Linked DNA regions of Homo sapiens. The protein of the gene in region 3 purifies or fractionates together with the protein of the main gene of each other region. This does not show direct contact. Each region holds a gene or a part of one and is shown on either strand. Other genes may lie near its edges.

The links.
Region 1: the proteins of CHN1 (region 3) and FARP2 purify together in Homo sapiens (affinity purification with mass spectrometry; one large-scale study listed by BioGRID and IntAct). This does not show direct contact.
Region 2: the proteins of CHN1 (region 3) and NADK2 fractionate together in Homo sapiens (co-fractionation; one large-scale study listed by BioGRID). This does not show direct contact.
Region 4: the proteins of CHN1 (region 3) and NAA20 fractionate together in Homo sapiens (co-fractionation; one large-scale study listed by BioGRID). This does not show direct contact.
Region 5: the proteins of CHN1 (region 3) and SLC25A31 purify together in Homo sapiens (affinity purification with mass spectrometry; one large-scale study listed by BioGRID and IntAct). This does not show direct contact.
Region 6: the proteins of CHN1 (region 3) and ALDH1A1 purify together in Homo sapiens (affinity purification with mass spectrometry; one large-scale study listed by BioGRID and IntAct). This does not show direct contact.

What each region holds. Positions count from the first base shown.
Region 1 is NC_000002.12:241,485,285-241,488,784, reverse strand, and holds part of FARP2 (FERM, ARHGEF and pleckstrin domain-containing protein 2), read right to left. Parts: intron 1-3,500. UniProt on the Homo sapiens protein: Functions as a guanine nucleotide exchange factor that activates RAC1. May have relatively low activity. Plays a role in the response to class 3 semaphorins and remodeling of the actin cytoskeleton.
Region 2 is NC_000005.10:36,239,126-36,243,081, forward strand, and holds the start of NADK2 (NAD kinase 2, mitochondrial), read right to left. Parts: upstream 2,801-3,956; 5' UTR 2,674-2,800; coding exon 2,374-2,673; intron 2,267-2,373; exon of another isoform or gene 2,234-2,266; intron 1,731-2,233; exon of another isoform or gene 1,711-1,730; intron 1-1,710. UniProt on the Homo sapiens protein: Mitochondrial NAD(+) kinase that phosphorylates NAD(+) to yield NADP(+). Can use both ATP or inorganic polyphosphate as the phosphoryl donor.
Region 3 is NC_000002.12:174,876,382-174,879,881, forward strand, and holds part of CHN1 (N-chimaerin), read right to left. Parts: intron 1,748-3,500; coding exon 1,459-1,747; intron 1-1,458. UniProt on the Homo sapiens protein: GTPase-activating protein for p21-rac and a phorbol ester receptor. Involved in the assembly of neuronal locomotor circuits as a direct effector of EPHA4 in axon guidance.
Region 4 is NC_000020.11:20,020,362-20,023,861, reverse strand, and holds part of NAA20 (N-alpha-acetyltransferase 20), read right to left. Parts: intron 1,407-3,500; coding exon 1,382-1,406; intron 1-1,381. UniProt on the Homo sapiens protein: Catalytic subunit of the NatB complex which catalyzes acetylation of the N-terminal methionine residues of peptides beginning with Met-Asp, Met-Glu, Met-Asn and Met-Gln. Proteins with cell cycle functions are overrepresented in the pool of NatB substrates.
Region 5 is NC_000004.12:127,764,900-127,768,399, reverse strand, and holds part of SLC25A31 (ADP/ATP translocase 4), read right to left. Parts: intron 1,335-3,500; coding exon 1,180-1,334; intron 1-1,179. UniProt on the Homo sapiens protein: ADP:ATP antiporter that mediates import of ADP into the mitochondrial matrix for ATP synthesis, and export of ATP out to fuel the cell.
Region 6 is NC_000009.12:72,904,554-72,908,053, forward strand, and holds part of ALDH1A1 (aldehyde dehydrogenase 1A1), read right to left. Parts: intron 1,480-3,500; coding exon 1,405-1,479; intron 1-1,404. UniProt on the Homo sapiens protein: Cytosolic dehydrogenase that catalyzes the irreversible oxidation of a wide range of aldehydes to their corresponding carboxylic acid.

The DNA.
Region 1 (3,500 bases), about 67 Mb from region 3:
TGAGATCAGTGAGAAAATGAAGGATTCAACAAATAATGGGGAGAAATGTTACATCTCAATCTAATATCTATCAAAACAAATTCTAGGCCAGGCACGGTGGCTCACACCTGTAATCCCAGCACTTTGGGAGGCCGAGGCGGGCGGATCACAAGGTCAGGAGATCGAGACCATCCTGGCTAACACGGTGAAACCCCGTCTCTACTAAAAATACAAAAAATTAGCCACCTGTAGTCCCAGCTACTTGGGAGGCTGAGGCAGGAGAATGGTGTGAACCCAGGAGGCGGAGTTTGCAGTGAGCCGAGATCGTGCCTGGGCACTCCAGCCTGGGACACAGAGCAAGACTCCATCTAAAAAAAAAAAAAAAAAAACCAAAAAAGTAAAAAAACAAATTCTAGGGAGATTAATTAAATGAGAAAACTGAAACCATTAAAAGGTGCCAATATAATATTGGCATGGGGAAGAACTTCCTGAGCCCATACTAAGGATAGAAACCCTCAAGGAAAAGACAGCCAGAGCTGACCCTGATAGGCCCTGATTTTTCAACTTTATGATGGTGTGAAAGTGATAAGCATTCAGTAGAAACGGAACTTCAAGTGCCCATACGACCATTCTGTTTTTCACTTCCAGTTTGGTATTCAACAAATTATGTGAGATATTCAACACTTTGTTATAAAATAGGCTTCATATTAGATGATTTTGCCCAACTGTAAGCTAATGTATGTTCTGAGCACATTTAGAGTAGGCTAGGCTGGCTCACGCCTGTAATCCCAGCACTTTGGGAGGCCGAGGCGGGTGGATCACGAGGTCAGGAGATCGAGACCATCCTGCCTAACACGGTGAAACCCCGTCTCTACTAAAAAATACAAAAAATTAGCCAGGCGTGGTGGCGGGCGCCTGTAGTCCCAGCTACTCAGGAAGCTGAGGTAGGAGAATGGCGTGAACCCGGGAGGTGGAGCTTGCAGAGAGCCAAGATGGCACCACTGCACTCCAGCCTGGGCGACAGAGCGATTCCATCTCAAAAAAAAAAAAAAAAAAAAAGAGTAGGCTAGGCTAAGCTATGACATCAGAGAGGTTAAGTGTATTAAATGCATTTTCTTTTCTTTCTTTTTTTTTTTTTTGAGAGGGAGTCTTGTTCTGTCACCCAGGCTGGAGTGCAGTGGTGTGATCTCGGCTCAGTGCAACCTCCGCCTCCCAGGTTCAAGTGATTCTTGTGCTTAGCCTCCCGAGTAGTTGGGACTACAGGTGCCCACCACCACGCCTGGCTAATTTTTGTATTTTTAGTAGAGACAGGGTTTCGCCCTGTTGGCCAGGCTGGTCTTAAACTCCTGACCTTAGGTGATTCACCCACCTCAGCCTCCCAAAGTGCTGGGATTACAGACGTGAGCCACCGTGCCCTGTTAAATGCATTTTTGACTATACTATTTTCCTCTTACAATGGGTTTATCAGGGCATAGCCCCATCATAAGTTGAGGAGTGTCTGTTTCAATTCACACCTTCAACAAGCATTTGCTGGGTTCCCTATATGTGCCAGATGCCATTCTAGAGTAAGAGAAACAGAACCCATCAAGATGGAGTTTAAATTCTACAAGGTAAAACTAAATTGTAGGCAAAGTAAAAAGCAGTTACTGAGAAAATAATTTGTGACTTAATAGTGTTGGTGAGCATTATCATATAAACATTTCACTAATGTGTACAAAAAACTCACAGACCAATGGAGACCAGAGTGACCAGCACGCTGAGTGATTCCTGAGAGGAAAAGCATGGAATGCCAGGACACAGGGGCCAGGCTGGCCTCACCGACAGTCCGCAGGGATGCAAAGTGAAATGATGGGGCTGCTCGATGGGGCTGCTTACCTTACCCACTTGGGAAGAGTAAGAGAGACAGGTGCCTAGCACTTTCCATGGTGGAGGGAAAGATGCATGTTTAGACCTAGCTCCTGCAGGTGGGAAGGTCAGCTGGCGCAGGTGCTCCAACAGCAATTTAGCAGGAGTGCCCAAGGCCGTAAACACCTTTGCTCAGACAAATCTACATTTTGGAATTGATCTGAAGGACATAATTAAGGATGTGCAGAAAGACAGAGATCCAACAATGTTACAGTCCTCAACAACCAGCCACAGCCAAGCGTCCAGTGACAGGTGACTAGTTAAGTGAACTGGGGCTGCCATGAAAGGAAAGGAAAACCAGTGTCCTGACAAAACAGCCCGTGGGTGATGGCAACCATGCAGCAGATGCCTGCAGCCATCACTGCTGAGTGGGTACGATGATAGAGTTCTTTTTCTTGTTTCTTTTCTCTGTGTTTTTTTTTTTTTTTTTTTTTTTTTTGAGACGAGGTCTCACTCTGTCACTGGGGCTGGAGTGCAGTGGTACGATCACGGCTCACTACAGCCTTGACCTCCTGGGCTTAAGTGATTCTCCCATCTCAGCCTCCCAAGTAGCTGGGACTACAGGCACACACCACTTTTGCTCAGCTAATTAAAAAAAAAAAAAAAAAAAAAAGATTTTTGGAGATTTGGCTTCGCCATGTTCCCCAGGCAGGTCTCAAACTCTCAGCTTCAAGCGATCCTACCATCTTGACCTCCTAAAGTGCTGGCATTACAGGCGTGAGCCACAGCAACTGGCCAGTGATGAGTGATTTCTGTCTTATACTTTCAATTATTTTTTTCTATAATAAAGGTGTAATTTTTAAAAGTATACTTTAAAACAAATGGGGTCTGCTTCCGGTGGTGGCAGATGAGCTAATTCAAACTGACCTCTTCTTGCTGAGGGCCTGAGAAGTGGAATTAAATTTTACAAACACCTGCCTGAGGGTTTTGGCGCTCATTGTCAGGAGGAGGCAGTGCAGAGGGATAAGACCCTTGAAGAAAGAACAGGGAAAGAGGACCCCAGGGAGGGAGGACCCCACTGGGGGAGGAAGGACTCCAGGGAGGGAGGACCCCAGGGAGAGAGGATCTCAGGGAAGGAGGACCCTACTGGGGGAGGGCCCTGGGGGAGGAAGACCATGGGGAGGGAAAATCCCAGGGAGGGAGGACCACAGGGAGCAAAGGAGGACCCCAGGAAGGGAAGATCCTAGGGAAGGAGGACCCCAGGGAGGGAGATCCCAGGAAGGGAAGATCACAGGGAGTGAGGGAGGACCTCAGGGAGGGAGGACTCCAGGGAGGGAATATCCCAGGGAGAGAGGACTACAGGGAGCAAGGGAGGACTCCAGGAAGGGAAGATCCTAGGGAAGGAGGACCCCAGGGAGGGAAGATCCCAGGAAGGGGAGATCACAGGGAGTGAGGGAGGACCTCAGGGAGGGAGGGAGAAGCCGATGGAGGGAAGATCCCAGGGAGGGAGGGAGGACTCTAGGAAGGGAAGATCCTAGGAAAGGAGGATCCCAGGGAGGGAGGACCACAGGGAGGGAAGATGCCAGAGAGGGAGGGAAGATCCTAGGAAGGGAAGATCCCAGGGAATGAGGGAAGATCCCAGGAAGGGAAGATCCCAGGGAGGGAGGGAGGACTCT
Region 2 (3,956 bases), on a different chromosome or scaffold from region 3:
CATGGTGAGACTCAAGCACTTGGCCACTTTCTTTTATATCCATCCAATTCACATGATTCACATAACTTAGTATTTTCTACCCCAGCAATATAACAAATAATACTTATCATCTTATCACTCCTATTACAGAATCCCATTTTAGGACAGCTTCACACAGCCCAGTATTCTTTGGCCTGTTAATAATCTCTCATCTGGTCTACAACTAATGCTATTGCATTCTGAGTATGGGCCTTTATATAAACTATAACACAAATTCAAATCAGTAAGGAACTTATCCAATAAAACTGTAATGACAACACCACCAACAAAAACTATTCCACTGCCTGGCAATTACAAAACTGTGTATTCTACAGCCCACGAGTTTTACTTCAAAGCTGGCTTATCCCAAACAGCATTACCTAGCAATAGACAAATATTTACCTATTAGAGATTTCTCCACTCAGAACGGGTACACTTAGGTAGTTTGACTTTTTAAGACTTATTGATTTTCCCTACATTTTAAAAGTTTTTTTATTAAGTGGTAATCTAGTTCAGAGGTCCAAGAGTTAATCCTAACTGAGATGCCACCCATTTTCTTGAGGCCTTGAAAACGTTATCCACAGTTTCAAAATGCCAGTACTGTAAAGGGCCTTGGAGGCTATCTGGTACTACCTCTGCAATTCACATACTGAATTAGGTGAAGCACTTTGAAAACTGACACTACTATACAAAAAGTATCATTTCCACCTATGAGGCCCAGAGAAGAACACACATAGGAAGTTAACCACACAGAACCAGGGCCTAGAACTGAGCTCTTCACTCTTAATCCCACACTCTGAACATGCCAAGTGAGCTATTTTAAATTGTTGTGGGAAGCTTCGATAAAACTGTATGCACATATTTATGCATACATGGCATTTGACAAATCCTACAAGCTAGACTTTGCAAAATTAGTACAACCCAAAGGGCACACCACTTTCCCCAAATAGTAACACTGTGCTTTCTTAGAACATTACTAGTCCCTATCTCACCTCTAGTTTCACTCCCTAATACAAACTCAACTACTCTAACCTCCTGTTCAAACCCTTTATTCTTTAAATGATGCAAGTGTATTCTATAAACAGTCATTTTCAAACACTTAGGAAAAAGAAAACAAATCTACACATCTAGACTCCCATCAGGTGAATGCAGGAGCCCTCTTCAGTAAACCCAACAAAGAAGCAGGATGTTTAATGTTGACAACAGATTCAGCACTTAAGCAAAGATGATTTACAATTTCATTTTGATGCCTCTACAAAATAACTTCGCTAAGATCACACGATACCAGAAGTTTCCAACAGGTTGTCTAGTCTTGCACAGAATTAAACTAAATCAGTTATGTGCAATTAATTCCAAAACCTTTTGGTGCACAGTGCCAACAATTAAGAGATTTCCAATATATTTTTCTGGACATACTGCTCATGGTAGCACCGGGCACTCTCCTTTTCCTAAAGTTGGTGGATGGTGGTATGGGATCAGAAACTGTTTTTAAAGTTGGTGGGGGGGGATGACAACAGGAAGATTCAAACTCTGGTTTTTCCCTTGGATTTGTATCTTTGCAGATATATTAATAAACATATCAAATATGGTATATTGTGGAGATACTGCTGCACAAGAGTCGCAGGCTTTTTTATTTCACACACTACCCAGTATACCAGCCCCTTGTCCTGACATTTCTCCTTAATAACGTACATATACAAGTCAAATTTTCTCCCTTTTCCTTCTTAGCACCAAAGACCTGTGCTTTTAAAACAAGCTCGTAGTGTCCAACGACCACGTTCCAGCAAGGAAAAGGCTCACGCTGAAGGACTTTCCGGAGTGCCCTAGGCCTCGCAGTCCTGCAGAGTAAAAGGGGGTGTGTCCGCGGTTGTTTCGGCCCTTTTCCCCCGGCAGCCCTCAGCGGCGCCCTGGGCCCCCTTTCTCGCGGCGGCCAGGGGAGCTGTTCGCAGGGCGTCCAGACCTCAGGCCACTGGCTCACTTTCTTGGAGTGGGTCCCAACCAGGGAACGAGGGCGGGGGCGGCGAGGGCACCAACGAATCCTCAAACCCCTCACTCTGAGGCCACTCGGCAGCCCCTCTTCGCCCTCCCCGCGGCGCCCCTGCCTCCTAAGTCCCTGCATGAACCACTGTCCCTCTCTCTCCCCCTCTCCCCGGCCCTGCCTCTCCCTCGCACACACGCCCAAAGGCAAAGGAGGCCCAGGGAGAAGCCAGAGGACCTGGGGGCCGCGAGAGAGGCAGGACCGGCATCTGCGGTGCCCTGGGAAGAGTCGTCCCGAGAGGTCCCCCCGAGGGGGCGCAGCCGCCACCAGAGCCCCGGCCGAGCCCGGGAGCGAAGCGGGGCCGAGCCAGGACCCACCAGCTGCTTCAGGTCCTCCTCCGAGAGCTCCGCGTAACGGTACCGCTGCTGCTCGAACTCGTACCGGGTGGTTTTGGCCACCACCACCACCCGGGAGGGGCGGAAGCCGCCGTCCGCGCGGCTGCCACAGCCCGCCAGCTCGCGCGGCTGCCCCTGCCCCAGGTGCCGCCGGCCGCCACCGTCACCGCCCAGCCGGGGCCGCGCGGCGGGGCCTCCCGCACCCGGTCCCCGCAGCGCCGCCGCCCGGCCGCCCGCCACGCGACAACAGCTGCCCAGCAAGAAGCCTCGGTAGCAAGTCATCGTGGGCCGGGCCGCGGCCGCGGGCTTGGGCTCGGGCCCCTTGCCTCAGCTCCCTACCGCCGGGAGTGCGCGCCGTCCGCGCCGCCCGGGCCTCTAACTTCGCGCCGGACGGGCAGAGGTTAAGTGCCAGGACGTGCGTGGCCCACGCGGCTAGGGGGACGTACCCAGGCGTTGACGAAGGCGGGGAAAGCGTGGCGATTGGGAAACGGGAGACCCCACGCGGGAGAAAGGTGGGCGGGGAAGAAATGGAGGCCCCAGCTAGTGGGTTTTGTTTGTTTGTTTATTCGTTTCACTCACGCCTGCATAATGGCTGCTTCGCCGCCCGGGGGCGACCTCCCCGCACCACACGCTTCCCCGAGGTCGCTCTTCTCCCGCCCCCAGGCTAACTCTATCGGCCAATCAGAGCCCGCGGCGGCTCCGGATCCGAGGGGCCGCGCCATTGGCTGCGGCCTGAGAAAGAGGTAGAATTCTGTTAGGCGATTGCGTCGCCCTGAGGAATCCAGCTGGATCCGGTCTGAGGCGGCGCGGGGCCAGCGGGTGGGGTTTTGAGCGGCTGGCGGGAAGGCAGGTTCCTGGCATATGCTCGCTTGGGTTCTGTTCTGCAGGCCGACCACGTGCCCATTGGTTTATTTGACCAGGGTCGGTGTGATAGCTGGTGTGTCTGGGGCCGGGCTGGGGGCTGAGGAGGCGGACCCGGCTCCTGCTGCACCGTGTGCGTGGCTTGGCACGAAATCCTCTCGGCGTGGGACCCAGTGCCCGCCCCGCTGCCCCCTGCCCCCCCGAAGAGCCCTACCTATAGGACAAAGTCCAAATGAATTAGTTCTTTGAAAGCTTTTAACTGGAAAGGAGTGAGTTAAAGCAATGTTTGATGACTATTGATCTGGCTTTGGAATCTTGGGTAGCTTGGGAGGCAAGAAGAGGAGGAAGGGATGCTGTTGGGATAATGACCCGTGGAGTGATCAGGACCTGGGCTGGGGTGTGACGAGAACAGAAGGAAACGTCCCATTGTAAGGGGAGAACCACATGGCAGTGCACATCCTGCTGTTCAATTCCGCAGCTCCTTAGATCCCCTTCCCCTGGCACTGTGTTTGCTCCTTTGTAGTCCTGGCGCTACGTCGCTTCTGGACTTTGGGCAGGTTACCTCATCTTTCTGGGCCTCAGATTCCTCATCTGTAAAAAGGGGGTTAGGGTGACCCCAAGGTTCTACCAAGTCCAAATCGATTCAGTGAATCTATGACTCTCCTCACGGGCCCACCAGCACCAGCGTTCATTCGTGGGTTCCC
Region 3 (3,500 bases):
GCAAAGAATATAATGTCAGTATTATTCAAATACAAGCATTACTAAAAAATGCCATAAATGGAAAATCAACCAATAGTCAGAAAATGGGAACTAGACCATGAAAAGAATATTAAATACAGCAGGTATTAAGGATTTTAAGTTCTGGCTACTTCCAAACAAGATTTGTGGTTCCTAACAATATGAATATATAAAAAAACAATTTTTATACATTTTCTACAGCTTATCCTTTTAAATGTTGTTTTCTCCGTAGCAACAAAATGCCAATGTAAGATCTGCCAAAAACTAAAATTTGAGCTGGACACAAACTTTCTTATTTCCATTCTGTACCCAAATACTCTAAGGTAATGGGAAGTTATTTGAGGATGCTGCCTTGAGGTCAGATGGCTGCTATATAATAACATTACCACCAAACTACATTGAGTGTCTACATGTGCCAAGTGCTGATGGAGCATTTTACGCTTGCTATCTCACTCACTCCTCACAGCAATTTGACCATTATTACAATTTTACAAATAAGACAATCAAAAGCACAGACAAATTAGGTATTACAACTTGCACACAAATCTTGCATAGAATCCGAGCTCAAGACCTATTGCATTTCTTTGGTTTAGCAATTGAAGATTCTTAAAAACATAAAAATGAATTGACACAGTTCCAATTACAATACCTAAAATGCCCCCAACTAAATGTCACACACTATAAAACATCAGGAAAATCTCTTACTTTTTTCTTGGGGGTGAGGAGGAGGCTGGTGGCAATTTTCAAAAGTAAAATAATCTTAATGCCAAGAAATTAAAACTTTTATGTTAACCTGAAATATATCACAACTAAAATATGACAGCTAAAAAACTTAAATTGTCTTTTAGAATTAATTGTCTTTTATAATTAAGGAAAAGTAAAAGTGAATCTTACTCATTCAATTACTTCTTAACAGATTATAAAGAGATAAATCCTCCTCCTATTCAAGAATGACTGACTCCCAAAATGTGTGTGTATACATACACACACACATAATATACACACACACATAAAATCTTGCTAAGAACACAACTATTTATAAAGTAAATTATCTTTAAGGAAAACAAAAAAGTAATTTTGAGAGATAATGCAACCCCCTCAATTACTTACGTAATAGTAGCTATCTTTTCTTGACCAGGAGTTATGCTTCTGACCAATCCCCTGAACTATTTTTTATTAGGGGCCATTTTTCCAACATAGTTTTAAAATTGTGAAACTGATAAAACAGAAAACAACCAGGAATATAAAAATTTACCTAACATATTTTAATAGAACAAGAATTAGTTATATGCAAAGCTCAGCATCACAGAAACTAGACATTAAGAAAAATGAATATACTTTCCAAAGCACTGTGGATAAATCAATCTCTTCTGGCAATAATGGCTTTCTTAAAAGAACCCCAAACAGAAAAAGATAAAGTGTGGTTTCATAGTAGCTTACCCTTTTCTCTGACACCCCATCCTGGCCTGTAGAATCTCTCTCATCATGTGTCTCTTTCAGGACTGGCATATGTTTTTTGTATGCTGGCTCTCTGTTTAAGGTTGTGTATCCTACGTGCTCATAAATTGGGTTTATCGTCATCTTGGCAATGTATTCTGCTGCCTTGGTTTCAATATAGAGAGTAATCAAGCCATCAGTCACCAGATCGTGGATGGACTCAAAGCGTTTCTCCCCAACAAAGTGCTTGCCATCGTAGTAGAGCCTGAAGTTTCTGGTTTGACTTCCAAATCTGCCTCAATGAAATGGGAAAGATGTTTTTAAGAAAAGTAAGCAACTGAATTCTTTCTGAAAAAAAAACAAAAACAAAAAAAAACTATCGCTTTGTTTTGTGTGTGTCTTCTTTGTTTAAATAAGCTGTGGCTAATCTCTCTGAATCGTCTGGAATATATAAAATTAAACCTTTGAACACAAAGAATGAGCTTGCAATAATTAGGGACAACTAGTCAAAAGCATGCCTACCATAGAAATAATTTTTTTTATTTATCTTTTTAAACCACTTTATTATACCTGTGGAAAAAATGGGAGAAAATAAACCTCACACCACATTAAAACATAGTCAATATTCAATTGGCCAACTCCATAATAGATGACATTTCTATACTAACATTTTTTCTTCAAGTTGATCAATAAGAATATTCAATGTACTTTAGACCTCAGCAGTCATGTATTTTAATAGGAAAGCTCCATTTAGGGCTAACCAGAATATGATGCCAGCAATCACTTAAAGTAGAGCTGACTCCAGAAACCTGAGCCATGCAGGGCAGGATGGCACAGAAACACACTTTCGCTACTTCTGGCCACAGGCCAAGGACTTATTCTTTCGTTTTTAAAGAGTCATTATTCTGTCTGCTGGTTAGGTCTGTGCAAGAAATGTTTGAAATACATACGGCACAAAAGTCATAAGCTATTGGACTATAGAAATTCTGTTTTCAATTTTATGTTCTGATGATGTGCTCTAACAACTGAAGAATAATGGTTTACTTTTATGATAATTTCAGTATTTTGCTTCCTGCAGCAGACCTCAGAAATGGATCCAATTTGGCATGATTAACATCAGTGTCCTTGCAGGAAGACACAGGCAAGAAAATGCACTGACTTTAATGAAAGCAGATGTCAAAAGGCAACAAGGCAACAAGAGCTGCCAGTGTAATGGTCTCCTGAAGGTAACCCCGAGTGAGACTAATTAAAAACTAAACAAGTCACAAAGGATATATTTAATTTCATTGTTAAAAGTACAACAGAACAGGGATGAACTAAAATACTAAAATAAACGCTGTTTAAGTAAAGCGTTAAATGGGACTATAAACTTGTTATATAACAAAATTGTTCTGGTATAGGTTATATTCCAAATGAATAGGAGTTAGGAACATCTTAATGTGGAAATAAAGTATGGAAAGGAAATAAAATATTTTTTAAAATAATAGCCAGACGATGTCTGTTTCTGTAGTTCAAATTAGACTTTAATAACAATTTAATCTAGAATCCAACGTACTATCCATGTTGGCCCTTCTAAAGCATAATTTATCCATCCTTTAGTAACAATCAAATTTTGATTTACACTTAAGTGAACTATCCATATAATTACACTTTCTTGTTCTCCATTTTCCTCTAATGTTAAAGACACATTTCTCCCAAGTATATTTTCATTATAAAGCCTAAAAAATTAGACAGGTGAAATTTCTACACCAAAGTTAAATATAAAAGTTTTTCAGTTTAATATACTGCTTTCATCATTTCCTTTTTTTCTAATATACATTATCTGCAACATGGAAAGCAACTCCATAGCTTTTATAAGACTCCTACAATAATAAACACACATAGCATTGAGTCCCTTTATATTTCGGTTGTATCAGACACATTTCAATGAGGGCTCAGACCATTTTACTCCTGCTGGGACTTACGATTTTACAGTGGGCATTTCTACAGTGGATACAGAACTTAAAAACAATCCAAGCAATGGTGTCAGTCATTTAGTACTCAAT
Region 4 (3,500 bases), on a different chromosome or scaffold from region 3:
TTGTCACTAGCAATTTATGAGAATGTTCCTCTCACCTCACCATCATCAGCACTGAGGTTTATCATTTTTTAAAATCTTGGCTGATACATAAAATATGGCATCTCATTTTGGTTTTAGTTTACATGTCTTTTGACTGATGAGACTGAACTCTTAACACGTTCATTAAGCTCCTATATGCCCTCTTTTGATAAATTACCGGTTAGCAGAACCCTCCTACCCACCTACAGTAGATACAGAGCATAACACAGAATCCGAACTTTGTGTTGTAAGCCACTAGAGATGTGGGGTTATCTGTTACAGCAGCATAACCACAGTATCCTATCTTCACATCTTTGCCCCATTTTTCCATTAGGACAATAATAGACACTGTTCATTGTTACCTCAAAGCCTTCACTTTAGTAACAAGTCCCAATTTATAAAGCAGGGCACATTTCTGGACTCTAGATAGGATTCAGTAGACAGGTGAAGCATGAAACAGGTGCTGGTCAATGAGACAGAGCGGGCCTGTGTGGCATTTCCCAAAGGTACTCTCCTTTTTTTTTTTTTTTTGAGACGGAGTCTCGCTCTACATGTAGCCCAGGCTGGAGTGCAGTGGCGCGATCTCGGCTCACTGCAACCTCGGCTCACTGCAACCTCTGCCTCCCGGGTCCTGGTTCAAGCGATTCTCCTGCCTCAGCCTCCTAAGTAGCTGGGATTACGGAGTGAGCCACCACGGCTGGCTAGTTCTTGTATTTTTACTAGAGACGGACGGGGTTTCACCATGTTGGCCAGGCTGGTCTTGAACGCCTGACCTCGTGATCTGCCTGCCTTGGCCCCCCAAAGTGCTGGGAGTACAGGCCCAAAGGTACTCTTAAAAGGGAAGAACACCCTCACCTCCCCCTCTGCTGTTTCTGCTGCCGGAAACATGGCTGTGATGCTGTTTGCTGTGGCAACATCTGGAACAAGGTTACGGCCACCCTGGGAGGGGTAGAGTGCTTAAACTGCAAAGAGCCTGGCTGTTGGTGTCTTCATGGAAGCATCACCTGCCTGGGACTGCTTATCTCCAGACTTTGTTCACACTGGAGACTATGCAGCCACCTTGCTGAAGTCACTGTGCTTTCTGGTGAATACAGCCATGCTGACTCCTGAGGGGCAAGGTTGGCAGGGGAGCTATGATGTTACAGATTTCTACCAAGTCATGATATTAACAGTTTGTCAGCAGATCTAAGACAACTCTTGTTCTCAGTTTCACTTTTTAAAATTGCTTTCAGTGTTGCTTATGATGTTTCCTGACCTACAAGTTTTTAAACTTTTCAGTACTCCTCTGTTTTCCTTTCATTTCTGTTTTCTTTATTCTCAGTAAATCTTCATTCAACTTTTTTTTTTTTGTAAAAAAGGATACAGTTTCTGTAAGTGGATCCAAGTTACTGAAAGAAACAAGAGAAATGTCTCTAGTAAGCAGCGTTTACAATAACCAGTTGAAATAAGCCTGCTAAAGCTAACAGTAATATGCCACAAGGAAAACAAAACATGTTTCATCAACAACTTTAAGGCCAACTTTAGGGCTGAGGCAGATGATTTAATCTACCTAATAGCCATAATAAGCTGTCACAGCCACTATTAAGGTGTTTACATATTTTTTCACTTAACTGCTACTTGCTTCTTTAAAATTCAAGTTAATAAATCTACATCTTGTGTTTTCTAAGTGGCAATAAATTGCTAATGGAACTGGAGACCAACTAGGGATGTATCTCGCAGAGACAGAAGGTCAAACTCGCCCGCTGCAGCATCCAACCCCATGGATCCTCCCCGCCTGTGTCTGGGTCTTCCCTGACAATTGCTCCTTTATTCCACCCTCTAAATGTGGTCACTCCCACCACTCGGTTTTTGCTCCCCACTCCTATTCTACACTCCCACCTCCCTGTCCCCACCATCCCCATTCCTATGTGTTCAATCACGTGTTCTTAGTGGATGCCTCCCAACCTGGCTCCGATGCTGTGGGCAGCTCACCAGCACATCCCAGCACACCATTCCCAAATCTGCATTCTGAAAACCCATCTCCATCCCCTCACTTCCCTAGTCAATTAATGGAGCCACTATTTTGTCAGGTTCAAAACCAGCTACTTTTCAACTGTTCTCTTCTGATTTCTAGTCAAATTCTCCTTTGAGACCCATAACAATGCTAGTCATATCATATTTCTGTAGTCCAGCAGTTCTTAAACTGTTTGGTTTCAGAACTCCTTTACGCTAAAAAGTTACTGAAGACTCCAAAGAACTTTTGTTTATACGCGTAATATCTACTGAGATTTAAAAATTTTAAATATTCACTCAAAAATAATAAATCAATTACACGTTAACACAAATACCTTTACCAAAAAAATCACTATACTTCCGAAAACAAAACAAAACAAAATCCAGTGACAACAATGGCATTGTTTTAACAATTCTGCAACGTCCTGCTTAAAAGACAACGGGATTCTCAAGCATTTGTTATGCTTGCTGCTGAAAGATCACACCTTGGGAAGCTCCACTGTCTACTTGTGAGGGAATGACAGTGGAAAAGATGAAAAACCTTCTTAATACATCATGAAGATAGCTCTAACCTCACACAACACCTGAAACAATCTTGGGGACCCCAAACCCTGGCCCACTCCTTGAGAATCACTGCTCTAATACAGTGCAGGGAGTCACTCCACCACACCTTTCGACGACTGAACTGCTTTATCTCCTCTTGTCTGCCCACCCGCACCCTCACCTCCAGCCCCGCCATCTCAGGGGCTTCCTATTTCATCACTAAGAAGAGAAAACAGGAAGAAGTCTTTGCCAAAGTCCCCCCCCCCCCCCGCCCACCGAACCCACGCACACAGGCATCTGCACCCATATGCTACTTGCTCTCCTGTCAATAGGCACGGAGTGCGGGCGAGAGACCCCCTCAGTACTCGGGACCCTCCTCCTGCAATTCTCTTTCCCTCCTGCATCTGCATCTTCAATTTCTCTTTCCTGGAAGAAATGTACAAATATGATGTGCACTGAGCCATCAGCTCCTCTTGAACAGCTTCCCACTCCTGGGACAGCCTGAAATGCTGTCTTCACTCAGCTTCTGAGACCATGGGGTTCTCCTCTCACCTCACTGAGCCACACGGTCTCCTTTACTTGAACACTTGATGCCCTAAGGCGCCATCTTACAAACTCTTAGCCTTTTTTTCTACACTTGTGCTGACCCCCAAATTTCCATCTTTAGCTCAGACCTAATCTTGAGACGCCCATGCCCAGATGCCTTCCTGGCCCCTCCACCTGGGTTTCTTGGTGCACTTGGCAGAGAAGTTCAGGTCTTATGATGGCCTCTCCAGGCCCTGCCCTTCTAACTCTCTGCTGTTATCCCCTTACCCTCCCATGCTCACTCTGTACCAGCCATGCGGCCTGCCTCCTATTTGAAACAGGGGTGTCTTCACTTACTGTTCCCTCTATCTGGAAGCTCCCCTGGCCCCCAGTGTTCATGTAACTCATTCCTAACTTCCCCA
Region 5 (3,500 bases), on a different chromosome or scaffold from region 3:
ATATTTGATGGGCAGCTTTAAAACTAGTGGAGAAATGTTCCTAAATTTCATAACTACTGCAGGTGATAACAAACTAGAGACAGAGTACACACATAACTTTTTTTGTGATTAAATAAATGTACAAGATCCTGTAATTTTCATTAACATAGCAGTCTAAAAAATACACTAAAAACTGATCTGTCCAGACAACAATAAAAATGCCATGCAACTACATTTATACTAATGAAGGAGTATAGTATAATTATTTATTATACTAATAAATAATACTGATATTAATTTCATTGCTTCCTTTTGGAAGCATTATAATGTAGTCATTAAGAACATGGATTTTTTTTTGCTTGCCTTTAACAAGTAAATTACTTAACCATTCCTAGGCTATTTACTTAACAATTCCTAGGCTATTTATCTTTAAACAAAGGGGGGATTTTATTTTTTTATTATTTATTTTAAACAACTACAATTATCTTTATTTTCTTATTACTTTTTATTTCAATAGGTTTTTTGGGGAACAGGTAGTGTTTTGGTTACATGGGTAAGTTCTTTACCAGTGATTTCTGAGATTCAAGATGTAAAGTACTTTAAAAAGTTTCCTAGAACTAGGTAATAGCTAAAAATTGGTAGCCATTGTTACAATTTTTCTTTTTCCTACCACATGGAAGTGTTCTTAAAATCTGAAATGAAAAGGTAAATTGCAGAACAACCTGGAGAATACAACACAGAATCTAACAGTATCCGGTAGATAACCAAGCTACAGTAGCATTTATTTAATTAATTTTGCTTTGTCTCCTTCTCAAAATGACATTTTATTATTTGAATATAAAAAAGTGATAATAGGGTTAACATAAAATCAGAAAAACTGTTAGAAGATGCCTTTCCATATACCAATGATTTGATTATGATGTAAGCTTAATTAGCGTGTTTTTCATTTGCAATGTGATGTACAGTGAAAACACCTCAAAAACTTAGATACATGCTTTATAACTAAAGTCAGATCCATACTGCAGTTATAATTTAATTAGGTTATGGCAAAATCATGATTAAGCAGAATTTCATGTCTCTCTTTTTTCATCACTGATTTTTATTTTTATAATTAAAAGTAACATATCTGCTGAAAACATTACTAATTAAATAAATGGAAACCATATATTTAATATGTCCAAGTTAAAGCCCCCAGATTACCTTAACTGTGTCATAAGCTCCAAAATAAGAGGCTCGGTACACAATGATGCCCTGTACTGAAACACCAAACCCTTGGTATAAACCAGCAATTCCATCTGATTTTGCTATTTTCATAATACAGTCACCTAAACCCTTGAATTGTCGCTCCTCAGGACCTAAAATAAAGCCATTTAAAATCTATTAGCAACATTATATATCCAATAAACACTTTAATCAAAATAAACCTTTACAGATCTAAATGATCTGAAATTCCCACTTACAAATCTAACAAAGAAGGCACAAATCAAAATCCTCCCATTCTTTTACAGATAATCAAGATTTCAAGTACTATCTCAAAAGAAATAAATGGAAAATATTAATCTCTCATGAAAACAATTTACTTCAAACAACCTGCCTTAAAGTATTTTATTAAAGTTACCAGAAGTTACTAATTGAGGTTCAGAAAATAATTTGAAACAGGCCAGGTGAGATGGTTCATGCCTGTAATTCCAGTGCTTTGCGAGGCCAAGGCAGAAGGACTGCTTGAGGCCAGGAGTTCGAGACCAGCCTGGGCAACACAGTGAGACCCTGCCACTACAAAAAATAAAAAAAATTAGCCAGGAGGCTGAGGCAGGTAGATCACTTGAGACTAGGAGTTGGAGGTTTCACTGAGCTATGATTGTGCCACCGTACTCCAGCCTAGGCAACAGAGTAAGACCCTGTCTCTATTAAAACAAAACAAAACAAAACAAAGAAACACTTAGAAAGGAAAAATTGGCAGGGCACAGTGCCTCATGCCTGTAATCCCAGCACTTTGGGAGGCTGAGGTGGGTGGATCACGAGGTCAGGAGTTCAAGACCAGCCTGGGCAAGATAGTGAAACCCTGTCTCGATTAAAAATACAAAAATTAGCCAGGCGTCGTGGTGGTCGCCTGTAATCCCAGCTACCCAGGAGGCTGAGGCAGGAGAACTGCTTGAACCTGGGAGGTGGAGGCTGCAGTGAGCTGAGATCATGCCACTGTACTCCAGCCTGGGTGACAGAGAAAGACTGTCTCAAAACAAAAACAAAAACAAAAAACAAAAAAAAAAACAAATAAAAAAACTCCAGGACTGTTGAAAAGCAAAAAGATAAAGCTAAAAACTAGTAAGGATAGTTTAAGATAGTTAACATTTCATATGAAGGGGTCATATTTTTCCAGTATTTTCTGGTTTTATTTTTCTTTTCCCTTGACCAAGAATTCCTTGACAATATTTTAAAACTATTATATATGTACAATGTAATCTTCCAAAAATAAACTAAATCTTCCTGATTTGAAAGAGAAAACAAAACTATGGAACTTAAAGCAAGATAATATTGAGTTATTTTTACCCTCTTATTAATAAAAATAAACTTTCAACTTCCAGTTAAATAGATGAAACTCACATTTTTATTTTTGCTCAAACTGCCACCCCTTCTGAGACATTTTCTGATCACTTATTTAAAACTGCTATCACTCTCTTCTAACTTTTTTCCCTAGCATTTATCATTAAGTGACAATATATTTTAGTCATTTATTCATTTATTATTACTTGTGTCCTCCACTAGACTCTTAGGTACATGAGGCATGAGCTCTATGTCTTACATGGGGGGTGGGGTGTGAATATGTGTGCATATATATACGCATATACACACTCACACACGCCCTGTATCTGCAGGCACCCTGTATTCCAGAAGGCACTCAATATTTGTTGAATGAATCTCTGTACCCTAAAGAAACTCTGTTACATTAATAATAATGAAATAAAACAGGTTTAAAGCCAGATAGGCCAATAAGAGAACATGACAGAATGAAATCTACAAAATTTTGCCAGATGGAGAGAATAGGGAGGAGTGGTAATTCACCAAATAGAGCAGAAAAAGCTGAACCTATTTTCTTACAGAGGAAGATACTGCTGGGAAGCAAGCCATTTGATCACAATAACCTCAGAAAGACTTAGAAATTAGAGGAACTAACTACTACTTCCAGGATGAAAGCAAAGGAGCAGGGAGATGCTCAATATCCACAACCTCACCCTGAGCAGCCAAATGACTTACTGTGCTGCCACCCACAGAACTGAACACAAGGCTCCAGATTTAACGGGGCCAGTTGTGTGACCGCTGCAATCACTCAAACACTGAAAAAAGACTCACATAAAGATATTTTATTGTGAAATATAAGATCATCAGGGATAGAAAGAAACTAAAAAGAAAAAACATATACTAAAGGATCCGGAGTAAGCAAATTGGTATCTTAAGAGCAACATTAGAAACTAGAAGTCAGGGTAATATTTTCGTAATTGTGAAGGAAAATAATTTTAAACTCA
Region 6 (3,500 bases), on a different chromosome or scaffold from region 3:
TATAAACTGCCATTAAGTTTTCAACCACTGGATTTCCAGTGGGGTCAGAACTATAGAATCTTAAGCATGGAATAGAGGTTAAAAGATCTATTTTCTTCTTCCACTCTTATCCACACTCACAATCCTTGGCCTTGTCTGACAGATGAAAATAGTGATGGTTAGAGAGATGCCATCCTGACTCTTATACTCTGGTAGTGTCTAGGTTTTCTTCAATACTTTGCTCGGTACTTTAATTGCTTCTCTACCTCCATAGGATATGGAATCCCAGTGTATTACTACTTATTTCATAGTGTATGTAGGTTATTTTGCATGTCCTGCCACCACAGCTATGTAGAGCATGGAACATGGTGTCATGTCTCTGGGGTTCCTAGGACCTTACACATAGCAAGTGCTTAATAAATGAAAGCATATTGAGAAAGTAGACTGGTCATTTTATAATTCTCCCATTTCACTGACTCTTCAGAGATATTTGTTTCCTTGTAATTTTGCTGATTTGTTAGAGTACGGTACTCAACCATTTAATACATTTAGAGATTGAGAAAGGCACATTTTCACTTCCTAATTACAAAATGAGCAAGTTTACGATCTGTGTTTGATACTATAAGGTTTCTATTTCTTTTTTCTTCATAAATGTTTACATTAATACATGTAAAAAAGTTTTAAGAAATAAAATGACTAAACTTGCCTAAACAAAATCAACTAAGCATATTGCCACTACTTTCTGTATTTACATATATATGTGCATACTTAAAAAGTCTATATACCCTAGTTTCAAAAGCAATTGAAATTTCATAAATGCATTTATATATAAATATTCTTAATCTAGTCACTACTATAAAACATGTTTTCCTCAAATTTCCTTTTAGGTTTAAGTTTTAATACTAAAAATAACTTCTTATGGTAATAAAAAATGTTAAAGTCTACATCAATAATATCTCAACAAATGGGAATCATTCCTCTTACACTGAAATTTCCTTTACATAAGTCACCTAATTTACTTATTTAAATGGTTTATTCAAATAACTAGAGTGTTTACATTTGCACCTTTCTTGCAATCACCAATGCATAGTTTCCACCTCTTTTCTGGAAATGTTTCCCAAATGGATTACATTCATATATATAGCAAGCAATTCTAAAAGCAAGCAGTATTACAATCACCAATGTAAGTTGCTTAATATAGTCCCTAAAATATAGTAGGAATTTAGTAAATTATGTTGCTGTTCTGCAATCACCTTTTGCACTTATGGAGTACATCCCACATTTAATAAGCTATTTGGTGCTATGAATCTCCAGGAAAGAACAGAGGCAGGTTTTATGTAAGGTGAAAACTATGAGTTAATTCCCTGGGAATGAAAATCATTTTCATAAAAATAAATATTTATCTTAATAGAACGTTAATCTTACAGTTCTCTTCCATTTCCAGACATCTTGAATCCACCAAAGGGGCACTGGGCACTTACCACGCCATAGCAATTCACCCTGAAGGAAAAGAAAAGTGCATTATAGACAATACTTAAGGTGTGAAAAAAAAATCCTTTTTGGCAGTTTTAGAAATTTGGAAAGCTCCTTACAAACTCCATTAATTTCATTATAACATACTCATCTTGATAAAAAAAAGTAGCACTATAAATTAGAATGCAGACATATATGGATACACACTACCTAGAAACAAATAGAATAGTGCAACTATATATATGGATAGCCATTTTGGTCGTACATTGTGTCCCTGAGAAGTGGTAGTCTGAATTTATAAAAGATAGAATAGTCACTATGCTGTAGGGGGAAAGATATGGTTTGCTAGAAGCTAGAATTTGTTGGATCAGTATTCATTACTGCTTATATATGGATCAGCTTGTAATTCTCTTGATGTTTCTGTACTTAACAGGCTAGAATCAATTTTCTTTTGCAATTGTAATATGTATCATATTACTCAGTTAATTTTTTTTCCCATTAATTGGTTAAATAAATTGCTTAAACAGAGGCCTTGGCAGGAGTTGGGTTTAATTATAATTTATTCCCTGTCATATTTCATAAAGTGTTTAAAGATGCTTATATAAACAAACATAATTACATGAATAGTAGTAATTAGAATCCAACAAAAAATTACAATAGAAGATCTAGATGGGGAAAATTAGAATGCAGTTTTGCAGACCATAAACAATTTGTTTAGCTTTAAATTTGCTGGTGGCCAAAAGTTAGCAAAATCTAATTATTTACCTGATTCTCATTATACGCAAGAGAAAAACACTTTTTAAAGGAGATTTATGTTTATACTTTTCTCTCCCTTCATGCTATTTTAATAAGTGGACAAAAATGTGGCTTCCAGAGCCTGGGTTAGTAGCTGGAGACTGAGGCAGGAGGATCACTTGAGCCCAAGAGTTTGAGACCAGCCTGGGCAACATAGCAAACCCTTGCCTCTACAAAACAAATTTAGAAAACCAACCAAACAAACAAACAAAAAACCAGGGTGGCTTCCAGATAAATTGTATTATACTTTGAAGGTTTGGTCATTACTTTTATCCTGAGATAATATTCAGATGTTTTCTTTGTTAAAACACTATCCCAGTTCCCGAAGTTCCACATTCTCACTGGACCATAAAGTTCTTAACTATGTCTCTCATCCTGGAGGGATAATTCCTTTAATAAATTTACACTTACAAAAGGCAGTATTGTCTCAGCTTTGTTTAATTGCCCTTTAAATTGCAAAATCAAATACTACTTTGAAATTATGAGTAAACTTCCTGCAACTCTGGAGTTCAATAATTTTCCTGAAAACACCAAGCAGCTATTAGGTCTGGGACAATGCCAGAAAATTATTATCTTCTAGGATATGTAGTAACAAGATGGTCCCCTCTGTTTTTCATAATAGAGGAAATTCCTGATCAGGGATTCCCAAGACCCTCAGTGGGGTGATGTCATAACAAGCTTCATCAAACAAGCATGGAACATTCTGCTAGTCGAAAATACAAAACTGAAATTTGTCTTTGTTAAAAAGTGCAGAGAGTAAATTTGCTCATTTTACTGTCAACTAGAAATGAAACTATTTTACTGTGAATTAACAGGGAACTGAGAAATGTTCACTTGGCAAAAACTTTGAGTTCAAAATGTTATCTGTCTTCTGCAAGCGTTTCCTCATGTGTAAAGTGGGGATGATAATATTTAATAGGATTGTTTCAAGGTATGCGTAAGATTGCGTGAATAGTATTCTTGTTGTAGTACTTGGTATAAATATCTTCAGTAAGTGGCGATAATATACATACACACAGTAACTATGCTGAATTTTATTAATGCTTTTATCATAGGCAAATTCTATATTCATCACTAGCTATACCGACTATTCAAGAAGAACTTGCTGAATTTTATTTAAGAGTCTCCCATTAGGCCCACTTCCTATTGCTGTTACAATGGCATTTAAATTGCCACATGGGCTTTGGAGGAGAAATTTAAACTATACACTGATATAATTTGTGTTAATGTATACCCTCCCCTGCCCCAAATCA